Homo sapiens: one gene and its partner. The protein of the gene in region 1 interacts with the protein of each later gene in a pairwise test. Each region holds a gene or a part of one and is shown in the gene's direction. Other genes may lie near its edges.

Evidence for each region.
Region 2: the proteins of CLVS1 (region 1) and AHSP interact in binary tests that used the Homo sapiens proteins (3 or more experiments, as listed by UniProt).

Annotation. Positions count from the first base shown.
Region 1 is NC_000008.11:61,283,857-61,291,062, forward strand, and holds the start of CLVS1 (clavesin-1), read left to right. Parts: upstream 1-4,113; 5' UTR 4,114-4,282; intron 4,283-7,206.
Region 2 is NC_000016.10:31,523,461-31,529,344, forward strand, and holds AHSP (alpha-hemoglobin-stabilizing protein), read left to right. Parts: upstream 1-4,439; 5' UTR 4,440-4,502; intron 4,503-4,516; exon of another isoform or gene 4,517-4,554; intron 4,555-4,675; 5' UTR 4,676-4,679; coding exon 4,680-4,754; intron 4,755-4,997; coding exon 4,998-5,231; 3' UTR 5,232-5,343; downstream 5,344-5,884. UniProt on the Homo sapiens protein: Acts as a chaperone to prevent the harmful aggregation of alpha-hemoglobin during normal erythroid cell development. Specifically protects free alpha-hemoglobin from precipitation.

The DNA of each region.
Region 1 (7,206 bases):
AGCTGATATCAAAGGTGGGAAACAGCAATTTGTGTTGTGCAGTCATAAAACATTTGGCAAAATGGTCACCTGCAATAACTTAGAAGTAAGTTATTCCAATATATTCCAATATATGGAATCGGCCTAAGTGTAAGTGTTTTTAAAAGTAGTATATATACACAATGGAATACTATTTACCTGTAACAAAGAATGAAATCCTGACATTTGTGGCAACATAGATAAACCTGAAGGACATTATGTTAAGTGACATAAGTCAGATAGAGAAAGAAAAATATCTCATGGTCTCAGTCATCTGTGGAATCTAAAGTGTTGTTGTCATAGAAGTAGAAAGTAGAATAGTGGTTACCACAGGATGGAGAGGGCAGGACAGAGGGAGGGTAATGAGATACTGGCCACAGATACAAAATTACTGTTAGAGAGGATGAATAAGTTCTGGTGTTCCACTGCTATAGCAGAATGACTAGGGTTAACAGTAATGTACTGTATATTTCAAAATAGCTAGAAAAGAGGTTATTGAATGTTCTCATCACAAAGGAAAAAGTAAATGTTTAAGGTGATAAATGTACTAATTACCCTAATTTTGTCATTACACAATGAATATACGTATCAAAACATCATATTGTACCCCATAAATGTATACAACTATTATGTGTCAATCATACAAAAAGATTGTGTACTTAATTCACATTTTTAGTGAGAAGTGGGTAAAGACCAAAGTGTCGGTAGTGTGTCTTGGTTATTACTTGCTGCTTTTGCAAGATAATAAACAAAGAAAAGCCTGGTTATTAAAGTGCAAATAAAGAAGAACAAATATTTCCATAATTCCAAGGTCTTGCCATGTTGGAAAAGCCAATACATTTTGCTCCCAAAAGAAAGAGGTAAAATTAAGTAAGCATTTGAGGCAAAGTCTGTTAAAACTAAATATTTATGCCAAGAATAAGATTAAGGGTGTGACCTTCATGTCTACTTAAAATCTCTCAGTGGTTTAGAATGTCTCAAAGAAGAGATCAGGTAAATGATCTGGCCTTACTACTTACTACTCCAGAGAGACTCACATACATTATGAAAGATATAGAAGTGAAAAAGCAAATAAATATAGCAGATCTAAGCTCTGTGCCTCTAAAGACCTATGGTGTGGCTACTGGAATAGGGAATTGATTAAGTCAGATGGAAGTTGCGCCTCTAAGGTCTTCAGACAGTTATACTTCCAAGGAAACTATGAGATTGGACTAAAAAAAAAGTCTGTGGAGCCTTACAGAATTAAAATAAGCCTTGGACTTCCAATCATCTATGGGAAGAAAGTAGGCCCAAAACTAGCACATCCCCCAGGAATGTGTTTCAAAATATTGTAAAGAATGCCTTATCCTGTTTGTAAATACTTATTTGCAACTGCCTTACTTGGGAAATTGGCTAGATGTGAACTTAATTTGATTTTACACTTTTTAATGTCATTGCAAAGGAAACTGGGCTACTTTGATAAGCATATAGGTCCTTTGCACAGAACAGATTAGAATATAATCATTCAGGAAGTTCCTTTCCTTCACTTACCCTGATTGACATTGTGCTGATGTTTTGCACACTCTGCTTGACCTCCATTTCAGCTCCGCACATGGAAGCTGCCTACATATTTGTTTACCAGGATTCCTCAATGAACCCCTTTGTGCATAAACAGTCAATGACAAGGGTGAAGGCCCGGCCTGCTTATAAGCATCTTTTATGCTGCCTGACCTCGCTCCTGGCACGCCCAACTCAGTACTCACTTCTGTACTCCTTTAAAGGGCACTGTTAATGTTGGGTTTGCTGTGATGTAGGTTTGAGTACAGGGGGAGTGCCTTGTGTGTGTTGACCAGTGACAGGTAAAGACTCTATCCACGTGAGGGTGCACTGAAGTTGAGAGTCCAGGAATAATGGGCTTAATACCCAGAGAAATACCTATATTTATGAAGGAGATGTCAGGATGATTTTACAAGGGTGAAACAGCACATTGTTGAACATGTGACTAGCATGGATGTTTAAGAGCCAAGAAAATGTGTGAGGAATAAGGTCAAATTGTAGAAGGAAGAATATTCTAGTTAACTGGATCATATTTTGTTTTCCCTGTAGTTTTTTTTTTTTTTTTTAGCACATAAGACGCTGTCATTAATATTTCTATGATCTAATGTGCAGGCCATTTTTTTTTTAAGTTTGAGTTTGAATTAGTCAGGATAGGCTAGGTAATGCTAGAAGAACAAATTAACTCTGCAGCCCCAGTGACTTCCCATAACTGTGGCTTCTTCTTTGTTCACAGTGGGAATGGAAATTTGAAATGAAGAGGGGGCTAAGTGAGACTGTGTTCTACTTAGTCACCTGGGGACTAAGTAAGGAATTGTCATAGCCCATGGCCAGAGTAAGCTCATGGCCCTGCCCATATGTAATAGGGCTGGAAAGTGTGGGCAAGCCTCAGGATATTAGATGATCAGCCAATATTTCTGCAATAATCTGCTCCAGTGGTTATCAAAAATATCTTAGCCCCTATGGAGCCATAGAGCATAGAACTTACCACCCATATATCACACCCAACCCATCTCCAAAAATTCCTTCGCTTGCTGCAACCATTTCTCAATTTTGAATCTCTAAGTTTTAGATGGTTGTCTTATTGCTACATCATTTCCAGATGTGGATTCTCTCGTTCTGGGAATGTATAAGCTATGTTGTTCCAGGCATACTTGTAAGTGCTTGGGAAGCAGTAGTGAACAAACACACAAATTATCTGCCACATGGTACTTACATTCCATCAGAGAGAATGACTAAACAAATAAGTAAATATATAATACTATGTTAGAGTTGGAAGAATTCTGATGACTTTAAAGTCTTTGAAATACATGATAGAAAGATTACTTTAAAATATTTAATAAGTTTTCTAACCTTTTAGTAAATGTGAAAACTTTAAGCAAATACAAGTAAGAAAATCAAGTTATCTTGGCAAAAAGAAAATTTACCCATAGTGATCTAACTAATGGGAATGCTGTATTTGATATCTTGCTTTCCTTCACTTAACACTTTGCAAGTATTTCTTTTTTGGCCTTAAACAGTTTTCAAAAATATGTTTTAATAGCTATAAACATTACAGGCTATATAAAAATTAATGCTTTTTTATTTTTTGACAATTTCTATGATCGTAAATGAAATTTATACACATAAATCTTTGCATATCTGAATATATCCCTAGCATAAGGTACGAGAAGTGAAATTACTGGATCTAAATGCCATGTATATTTATGACACTGGATATACATTGTGAAATAGATTTTTAAAAATGTTATGCTTTCTCACTATTATTCCAACAATATAAGACATGCATATTTAAAACTTCAGCCCAAACTGCCATATTAAACTGCATATTTTCATTTACTGGCGAGGTTGATATTAAAAAAATGTGTTTATTATGCATCCCCATTTCTTCTATAAATTCTTTGTCATTTAACATTCCTCCTTTTTTTCTAAAAGGCTGTTAGTGTTTCTCTTATATGTGATACTTTGTGTATGAAACATCTACTTGCTGCAATTTTTTAAAGTGGTAATTTGTATTTACTTTTTTTATATTCTGACATTCAGGAGTGTTTTTATGCACTCAAACTTACCGATCTTTTTCTTTTTTATGTCTTCTATTCCTCTTGTGCTTAGAAAACCTTTCCTATCCTGAGATCGGTAAAATATTTCTGTTCTTCTAGTTATATTTTTAAATTTTATGTTTTTGATAAAAACATCTATGTGTAATTTATTTTGGTGAAAAGACTTTGATTTGAGTCTTTTCAAATAGTTCATTTTCTTAATACCATTTGTTAGTAAAATAATTCCCATAGGTTTGTGATACTTTCTTACCTGTCAAATTTACACACACACACACAGACACACACATCTGCTTTTGCGCTTTCATTAATCCGTTTGAAATATTCTATTTTTAATGTTGTGTGGGGAGTGATGACGCTGGTACTTTTTGTCCCAGATGTTAACAAAATTACAAATAATTATTGGTACGTCTCAACGGAACCAGGGAGGGTTGTGGTACGGAGGCATTTAGGACCCAGGGGAAAGCTAGGCTCCGTATAGAAGGACAGAGAATCGGGCGCACACGCCTCCTACCAAAATCACAGCCCCTTGTGGAGCCCGAGCTCTCATTCACAGCTTTCTAGAGAAATCTGAGCCCGAACCTGCCAGAATAGGGGATCTCACCCACCCAGTTCAGCAGCGAGGACACCTGCAGAAATACATTCCCAAAGCAAGGCTGGGCGGCCGTGTGAAGGTATTTGTTACCTTTTTTCTCCCCTCTGTATTTGCCGAGCCTCCCCGCCTTTCCCCCGCTCTTTCGATGCCATGGCTGCGGCGTTTCAGCACTTCGGTATGTGGACAGCTCCCATCTGCAATCCCTCTGCACTCCATCCCTCCCGCACCGCACCCCGCTCCCCGCCGCCTCCGCGGTCCATCCTCCTCCCGGCGCCCGCTCAGCCTGCGCCCCCTTACACATCAGCACCCCCATCTCCACCATCACCGTCATCATAGCCACCATCACCAGCGCGGTAACTATAGTCACACAACTGTGTCTTGCCACTTAGACAAAGCCCGAGGTCCGCAGGGCAGAGGGAAAGAGCTCAAGTTGACAGGCATAGGAAGGAAAGTTCAGGTGAACAAACCCCTGAAAACAAAGAGAGACGCCTGTTTGCGAGAAAGGGAAAGTGAAGGCAGGAGGGAGAGACCCCAGGCACGGGGACAGATGGGGCACTTGCCAGACACCAGCAGTTAGCCAGCTGCCTTTCAGCAGATTAGGGTCTGTTTAGTTGAGGAAATTAACATGGCCTAGGGCATAATGTGATTCCAGAAAAACAGAAATGTAAGCTCAACCTGTGTTTCTGGTTTTCCAATGGAGAATCACCAGGAAGCAGGGTGGGGGTGACCGATGACTCATATTCACCCACACGTCCGTTTCCTTTCCTAAGTGTTTAATGCAGAAACTCCAGAATTAAGTTTTTTCTTCTTTTTTCACTAAAATGTTTTGTAAAATAGGGACCCTAAAGGTTAACTCTGGCAAGAATAAAAATAAAAATGATGGTAATGATTGTAACTTAAGAAAGGGGGCTCTCATTCGAATGAACTATTTGTTCCAATGTTTCTTCCTGTCTACTTATTTCATTTCTATTTTCCAATCTTAAACCTCTCTTTGAAGCAAAGAAGATAGATCCCTTGCCCAAATGGCAAAAGTAGTAATGATATTCAGACCAGATGGCCTTGCTTTGTTTGTCACCAGTCAAGGACTGGCTCAGATTTGGAAGGCGAGATTTTTGTGTGCTTTCTCAGTAATCAGGTGATAACACCATTTTCCTATAATAGTAAAGGGTAATAGAATGCAAAAATTGAAAAGGCATTTTATGTAACTCCATTCTGCCAGGCTCTGCTTTTAGAGTGCTATCATTTTCTATCTCAGCTGAAGGGAAGTTGGAACACCTTTCAAATGTCTGATTAATTTGAACCTGAAAGTCTAAGCCCAAGTCATAGTCCCTATTTGATTTAGCCAGGATTATCTGTTTTATAAGAGCTAACAAGCACCAGAAAATAAGTGCCTGAGCCTGTCATCAATAAAAATGTCTTGCTGGGTGTTCATTTAATTGATTTTTACTGAACAGTAAAGCATTGGGATTTTTTGACAAGTTATTTTCTTATGAAATTAACATCTTAATTAAAAACGAGATTATTTAAATGGGAATAATAGGTCACACATGATAAGAAAGTTTAAACCAGAGCACAGAAAAGCTTGATTTTAAAATTGTCGTTGTGTATTTATTCTGCCTCTTAAAGACATTGCAGCACGTTTCATCTAAACCAGCTTGCTCACCATTAGAGGCATTGTCGAAAATAAAGACAGTCACAAATATGTATCTTGCGGAAGAAGTTCTGAGGAAAATTCATACTTAAGTCTCTTTGAGAATGAGAAATAGTCGCATTGTGTCAAAAGTTAATTACTGCCACTAATTATATAGACATAATTCCACCTGCCTCTAAAATTCATTCACTTTTGGATCCCAAGCAAGAAAACTAGTAAAATATGTGGTGAAATGGATTTTATAGAAGAAAATTTGGTCATCCACATAATGTCCTTGGCTTGGTAATATCCACAGTAACCAAGACCTCTTAAAAGTCCCTGAGAAAGGAGATTCTTAAAACTCCCTTTTCTGTCTGTAAAGAATGGTTCAGCTCAGAAAATTTTTAAGAGTGTACATATTGCCAATTCTAGCTGCTTCACACCAGAAACGCAGTCCAGGAATCCAGTGCCTCTAGAGCTTCTGTCTTCCTCTGCTTAATACAATCTCCTGGGGCTGGGGAAATTTTAAAACATGCTGCTTCAGTGAGATTTACAGGCATCTGTCTGTAAGCAATGACTTTTCTTGACTGAAATGTTATGCTGAGCTTATTAATTTTTATAGAATGATGTATCCTGGCTTCCTTACTTAAATCTTTTCTATTGAGAGCTATTTTGCCTTTAAAAAATATTTTCAGTAACAGAAATTACTCATTTTTATAATGGATTTAAAGGTGAAGAGAAAATGTTTTCCAGCCGAGTGTCATCATATATTTTTGTAGACATGCTCATAGAAGAGTGCATCATTTTAGAATCATGGAGTAGACAGCTGGAAGGTCTTTCATTTCCCAAAAGGCAAAATCTTGAACTTTTCAGAATTGGTAGTGTCTGCTCACTTCTGAAGGTTTTACAAAGAGAGGCACTTTATTATCCCTAAGAAGTCTATTCACAACTTGACGTACTCCCTGATAGCAGAGACTTCCATCCTTAGTAAATGGATCCAGGCTGACTTTGATCTTCTCTACTCTTCCTGTTACACAGTGACTTAGACAGAGGAGGCAGCACAGCAGAATGAGTATACAAAATATGAAGCTTGACTATATGCAATCAGTCCAGAAATATGTCCTCAACATTGCCAAGAGAGACCTTCTTTTCAACCTTCTCCCAAATATTGCTTGTTTTGATTATTGTTAATTTTATCCAGATATCACTGGAATAAAGTTGTTTCAAAAGAAGGTCCACAGTGTGAATTTTGACAAGTCTGCAACCTCTAACTGATGTATGTCTCTTTATTGAAACTTATGCTTAATTGCCAATCTAAGTTTTTCTTAGTTTAAGGGAAGTTTATATTCTTTTGCTTGATTCTTTATGGATTG
Region 2 (5,884 bases), on another chromosome or scaffold:
CATGACGTACATGGCCTCAAGGGAGTTCCAGAGGATGTTTTAGGCTCCAGGAGCCATTTAAGGGATGTTTCTTTCCAAAGAAAATGTTCATGTCATGAATTTTATTCCACTAACATAATCTGAACATACGGGTCTACCTTTAAATAATGGGCCAGATGACCCCTGTTTATCTAGGAGTGCAGTCTTCTGTCAGGGCAGATGTCCTTTCTACTGTGGAGAATTGCATTTTGAGACCCTATGAGTCTGAGCATATCTGTAAGGGGCTGCTGCTGTCTATTATTAGGGCGGCCTCTTTAGCTTTGGCTCTACACCATGTGGCTTGAAGATTTTCCTTGAATTTGACCTGAGCCCCTGACCCCACCCACATTGCTGGGGAGGAGGGGCCCGTTCTGGACTCTGGCACCTGTAACTCCTGACCCCCGGTCTTGCTTGCAGCGGAAAAGGAGAGGCAGAAGAGGGAGGTGCACACTCAGCCACTCTGGGCATCCTTCCTGGGTGGACTGGGCCCCCTGCAGGGCCTGCTCTCACCTACCCAGGAGCACAGCTGATCTCGGCTGGGTCTCCCTCAGCACACTCAGGATGTGTGGGGCAGGTGTCTGCGAGTCCCCGGGGGACTCAGGTTCCTGGCCAGTCTCACTGCCCCCTGCCCCAGCATTGAGACCCTCATGTGGCTGCAGATGTGGCTGATAGTGCCAATCAAGGGAGCCTCTGTCTTCCCAAACTTAAATTTCCCCTCCCATAACCTATAACTTCAGCCCCCTCCATTTTCTGAGCTAAGCTCCAATTAGTGAAAACAAAGTCAAGTGGGAGTCAGGGGACAGGAAAGTGGCCCAGGGGTGGGGCAGAAGAGGGGGAAGGGACAAGTCTCTCTCGAATGGATCCAGAGTGAGCTCCTCCCTCTTGCGAGTAGCCATGCTGCCAAGACGCTGACCTTCAGATGCGCAAGGCTCATGTCTCCTCCCCAGCCCTGGGACCCTCTGGAGGCTGCAGGTCCTGATTGCTGTGCCAGTCACAGCAGGAACAGGCCCCAAAAACGTCACATCTCCAGGAAATAAGACCAAGGTTCCACCTAACCAGTTCAGCTCTCACCTCCCTCCCAAAATGTTCACAGGGGAAACCATGGGCCAAACTATGTAACATGAAATCTACAACCTTTTTGCCCTGACTCCAACCTGGTACTGCCACGAGCAAGTCAGGGTTTTGCGTTGACTGAGTGGGATTTGGGTCATCAATTCCAATCAGATTTCTGGAGAAGGCTCTTCTTTCCCTGATGATTGAGGTCTTCATTGCAGTCCTCTCGGTGGAAGGAGAGGCCTTCCTGGAAGTCCAAACAGTTCTCTTTTCCTCCCTCTGGCTAATTTCTTGTTCAGCTGAAGCAGAGCCTGCCTCGATGAGGGAGTTCCTATTAGGTTTCTTAATTTTTAAGAGACATCACCAGAAGTGAATTCCTCTGTAAATCAGCAGTGCTTTATTTTTCTGTTGCAGAATGAGTTTGTGATCCTGGTTTTCTACAATTCTTTAGCAAATGTGTTTTTGTAATCTCACGTTCAACCCTTCCTTTATTGATGTATCTAGCATGCTGAAAGGGAATCAGTTTCCCCTGCTATTCTCAAGACACTGGTTGAGGGAGGAGACTTCAATTCTTCACTACATCTCACTAATTTTACTCTGCAATTCATTATAGTCCAGGTAGTTAGATTAGTTCCAACTGTGCCAGGAAATTTTGAGGAATGAACAAAATTAGATTTTTTTTTCCTTTTTTTTTTAAAAGATGGGGTCTCACTATGTTGCCCAGGCTGGTCTTGAACCCTTGGGCTCAGACGATCCTGCCGTCTCTGCCTCTTACAGGCATGAGCCACTGTGCGTGGCTTCAATGTTAGATGTGTTCTTGGCAGCATGGTCTTCTAAGCCATCTGAGGCAGCACCATCTCTTTTGAGTTTCCTGGCATGTACCAGAGACCTTCCTGAAACTTTTCCTTAATGAGCTTTGGAAGGGCATTGGGATCTTGATCTTTCCCATCTGGTAATGAATTATTTTTAAAGAAATATTTAAGAAAAATTATTTAGAAGTGAAAGGATGTAGGAGACAGTCGGCCTGGTGTGATGTGAGAAAGACTGGACCTGGTGGTCATTGCTGGCTTTCAAGCTGGAAAGGGACCAGGAGTGAAAGAATGTGGGTTCTTCTATAGACTAGAAGAGGAAAGAAAAAGAACTCTTTTTCAGAGATTCCAAGGGGAACACAGCCTAGAGGACAACTTAATTTTAGCCTAGTGAGTCTCATTTTAGATTTCTGACCTCTAAGTCTGTAAGATAATAAATTTATTTATTTATTTATTTATTTAGAGACAAGGTCTCACTCTGTCACCCAGGCTGGAGTGCAGTGGCGTGATCTTCGCTCACTGCGGCCTCTTCCTCCTGGGTTCAAGCGATTCTCCTGCCTCAGCCTCCCAAGTAGCTGGGATTACAGGTGCATGCCACCATGTCTGGCTAATTTTTGTATTTTTAGTAGAGAGGGGGTTTCGCCATGTTAGCCAGGATGGTCTCGAACTCCTGACCTCAAGTGATCTGCCTGCCTTGACCTCCCAAAGTGCTGGGATCACAGATGGGAGCCACCGTGCCTGGCCGGTAACACATACTTTCCACCCTATATAAATGAAAACATGTTCACATGGAAACCTGTACACAAATGTTTATAGCAACTCTATTCACACTTGCCCCAAAGTACAAACAATCCAGATGTCCTTCCGTGGCTGAATGAACAAACTACAGTGCATCCATACAATGCAATGTGTCCACTGACACTTGTGACAACTTGGATGGAGCTCAAGAACATCATGCTGACCAAAAAAAGTCAGTCTCAAAGGTTACATACTGTATGATTCCATTTATATGACATCCTGAAAAAGGCTTAACTGTAGTGATGAACAGATAAGTGGTTGCCAGAAGTTATGGGTGAGGGTAGGGGTGGCTACAAAAGGGTAACGTGAAGGAGTGGTTTTTGGGTGACAGAAACATTCTGTATCTTAACTGCGTTTGTAGTTACACAAATCTGTTATAAAATTAATAAACTAGGCCAGATGCGGTAGCTCACACCTGTAATCCCAGCACTTTGGGAGGCCAAGGTGGGTCGATCACTTGAGGTCAGGAGTTCGAGACTAGCCTGGCCAACATGGTGAAACCCCATCTCTACTAAAATACAAAAATTAGCTAGGCGTGGTGATGCACGCCTGTAATCCCAGCTACTTGGGAGGCTGAGGCAGGAGAATCGCCTGAACCTGGGAGGTAAAGTTTGCAGTGAGCTGAGATCGCATCACTGCACTCCAGCCTGGGCCACAGAGGGAGACTCCCTCTCAAAAAAAAAAAATTTAATATACTGTACACCAAAAGGAAGTCAGTTTTGCTGTATATTGATTAAAAAATGCTACAACCAAAAAGGCAAATCAACAAAGCTTTATGAGTGTATAGGCACCTATGAATGTTGGGTTTTGAATGGAAAAAAAAAGTGACAGGAAATATACAATGTTTAATGCTGGTTACTTTGGAGGGGGCAAAAATGATTCAGTTTTTCAGTGTACGTTTTTGTATTGTTTTAATTATTTCAATTAGTATATAGTGATTTTGAAATTTGAGAAACATCTACTGAAAATGGAAAATATCTGGAAAAATATTTAAAAAGAGGAAAAAGAGTATTTCTGCTTTATTGGGTACCTGTTGACAGGGTAGTAAACAAGACAAATCCATCTCCATTCTTTTTTTTCTTTTGAGATGGAGTCTCGCCCTGTCACCCAGGCTGGAGTGCTGTGGTGTGATCTTGGCTCACTGCAACCTCTGCCTCCTGGGTTCAAGCGATTTTCGTGCCTCAGCCTCCCAAGTAGCTGAGACTACAGGTGCCCGCCACCACGCCCGGCTATTTATCTCCATTCTTATGGAGCACAGCGTGGTGGAGTTCAGTCCACACGCTTACAGGTGGCTTATCTGCAAAATGTGTCTAAAAAGAAATTTTATAGGATAAATATTTTGTACATGTTTGAAACAGTGCTTGGCACAAATGAATAAATGTAATGCAAGCTGCTATTAATACATCATCTCCGAATTGGGAGAATCATTGCGATCACATCGTTGTGATTACACAAAAGCCTCTGTCATGTAATAGGGCTCAGTAAACGTCAATTTCCATAGCATTTCGAGCCTGGATACTGAAATATGGGGCAAAAAGCAGGAACATGCCCCTGGTTTGGCTCTTGCCTTCTTGCATTTCCTGGGTTTCCTCATTTATCTTTTTTTTTTTTTTTTTTGGCCTTGTTATCTTTCTACCTTCAGGGAAGCCTCTCCCTTCTTCTCCTCCCTAGAATGACCTATCACCCTCCTTCAGGACCTAGATGCAGGGCGTTTCTATCTTAGGCTGACACTTGACTCCTTGCCTACATCTATAGCTTGGCACAGAGAGATTCACGCACCCTCAAGAGTGTGGGTGAGACATATACAGCCTGTTAGACCTGAAGGTGAGCCCAACCTGGGAAAATCGTGACCTCAGAGCAGGGCAGGATGTGAAAGGTTTTGGAAAGGAGATAGCCCTGCAGGGCAGGAGGGATTTTTAAGGGGAGGAAGTGGGTTGGGGGAAATACCCAGTGAGGAGGGAAACAGATATGTAAATTCTACCCTTTTCTCTACCCAGGCAGATGGCTCTTCTTAAGGCCAATAAGGATCTCATTTCCGCAGGATTGAAGGAGTTCAGCGTTCTGCTGAATCAGCAGGTGAGTCCAAGCTTTCCATTTCAAAGGACTGGCCTGGAGACTGGGGGGTGCCGGGGAAGTGGAGGAAGAGGATAATTGGAGCTGGTGAAGTAATGGTGGAGTTGATGGAAACAACGAGAGACACGGGATACAATGCAGAGGAAAGAGAATGTGAGAGTTGGTGCTGTGGCACTATTCTAGTATTCCCGAATCCCATTGCTGACCACATTCTCCCTTGCCAACTGCCTCTCCGCAACCCCCCAGGTCTTCAATGATCCTCTCGTCTCTGAAGAAGACATGGTGACTGTGGTGGAGGACTGGATGAACTTCTACATCAACTATTACAGGCAGCAGGTGACAGGGGAGCCCCAAGAGCGAGACAAGGCTCTGCAGGAGCTTCGGCAAGAGCTGAACACTCTGGCCAACCCTTTCCTGGCCAAGTACAGGGACTTCCTGAAGTCTCATGAGCTCCCGAGTCACCCACCGCCCTCCTCCTAGCTCAGGGACCCAGCCCCTCCTCTCTGAGAAACTCTGACCTTCATGTCCTTAGGCTGTGCTCCTGCCACTCTACCCTGACACCTCAATAAAGACCAGTGCTGGTTTTGTTGGACTTCCTGGCTTCTCTTTCATGGTCTGTCCTGACATGTGGAGGCACTCGGTCCCTTTCCTTCCGCCCTCCTTCTTAGATATGCTCTTGGAAGCTTAATTCCTTACAGCAGAGGTTAGCAGCCTTGAGTGACCACCGGGCAGCGATTCTAAACTAAAACAGGCTGAACGAGGGCCAGGAAGGCGGGACTAGAGAGAGTGCAGAGCTGCAGGGGAGGGGGTGGCAGAAACAAGAAAGGGGGATAGAAGTCCTCCAGACATTGTCCTGTGACCTGCTTGTCGAGGAGGAAACTGTTGGAAGTCTCCCAGTCTTGTTCATCCTGCGCCAGGTCCACCGCCTCGACTTTTCAATCCCCTGTCCTTAGCCCCAGCTCAAACTACATTCTAGGATCTTCGGACTCTGACTACCGCAAAATACCTCCCCGGAGCCCCAGGCATCGCAGGAATTTAGAGTTGGAAGGGATCCTGGGAACCCTTTAGCGCGCCCCTTATATTTCAGGAGGGGAAGCCACTTCCCTTTGGCTCCAACATCCCTGGGCGCAGAT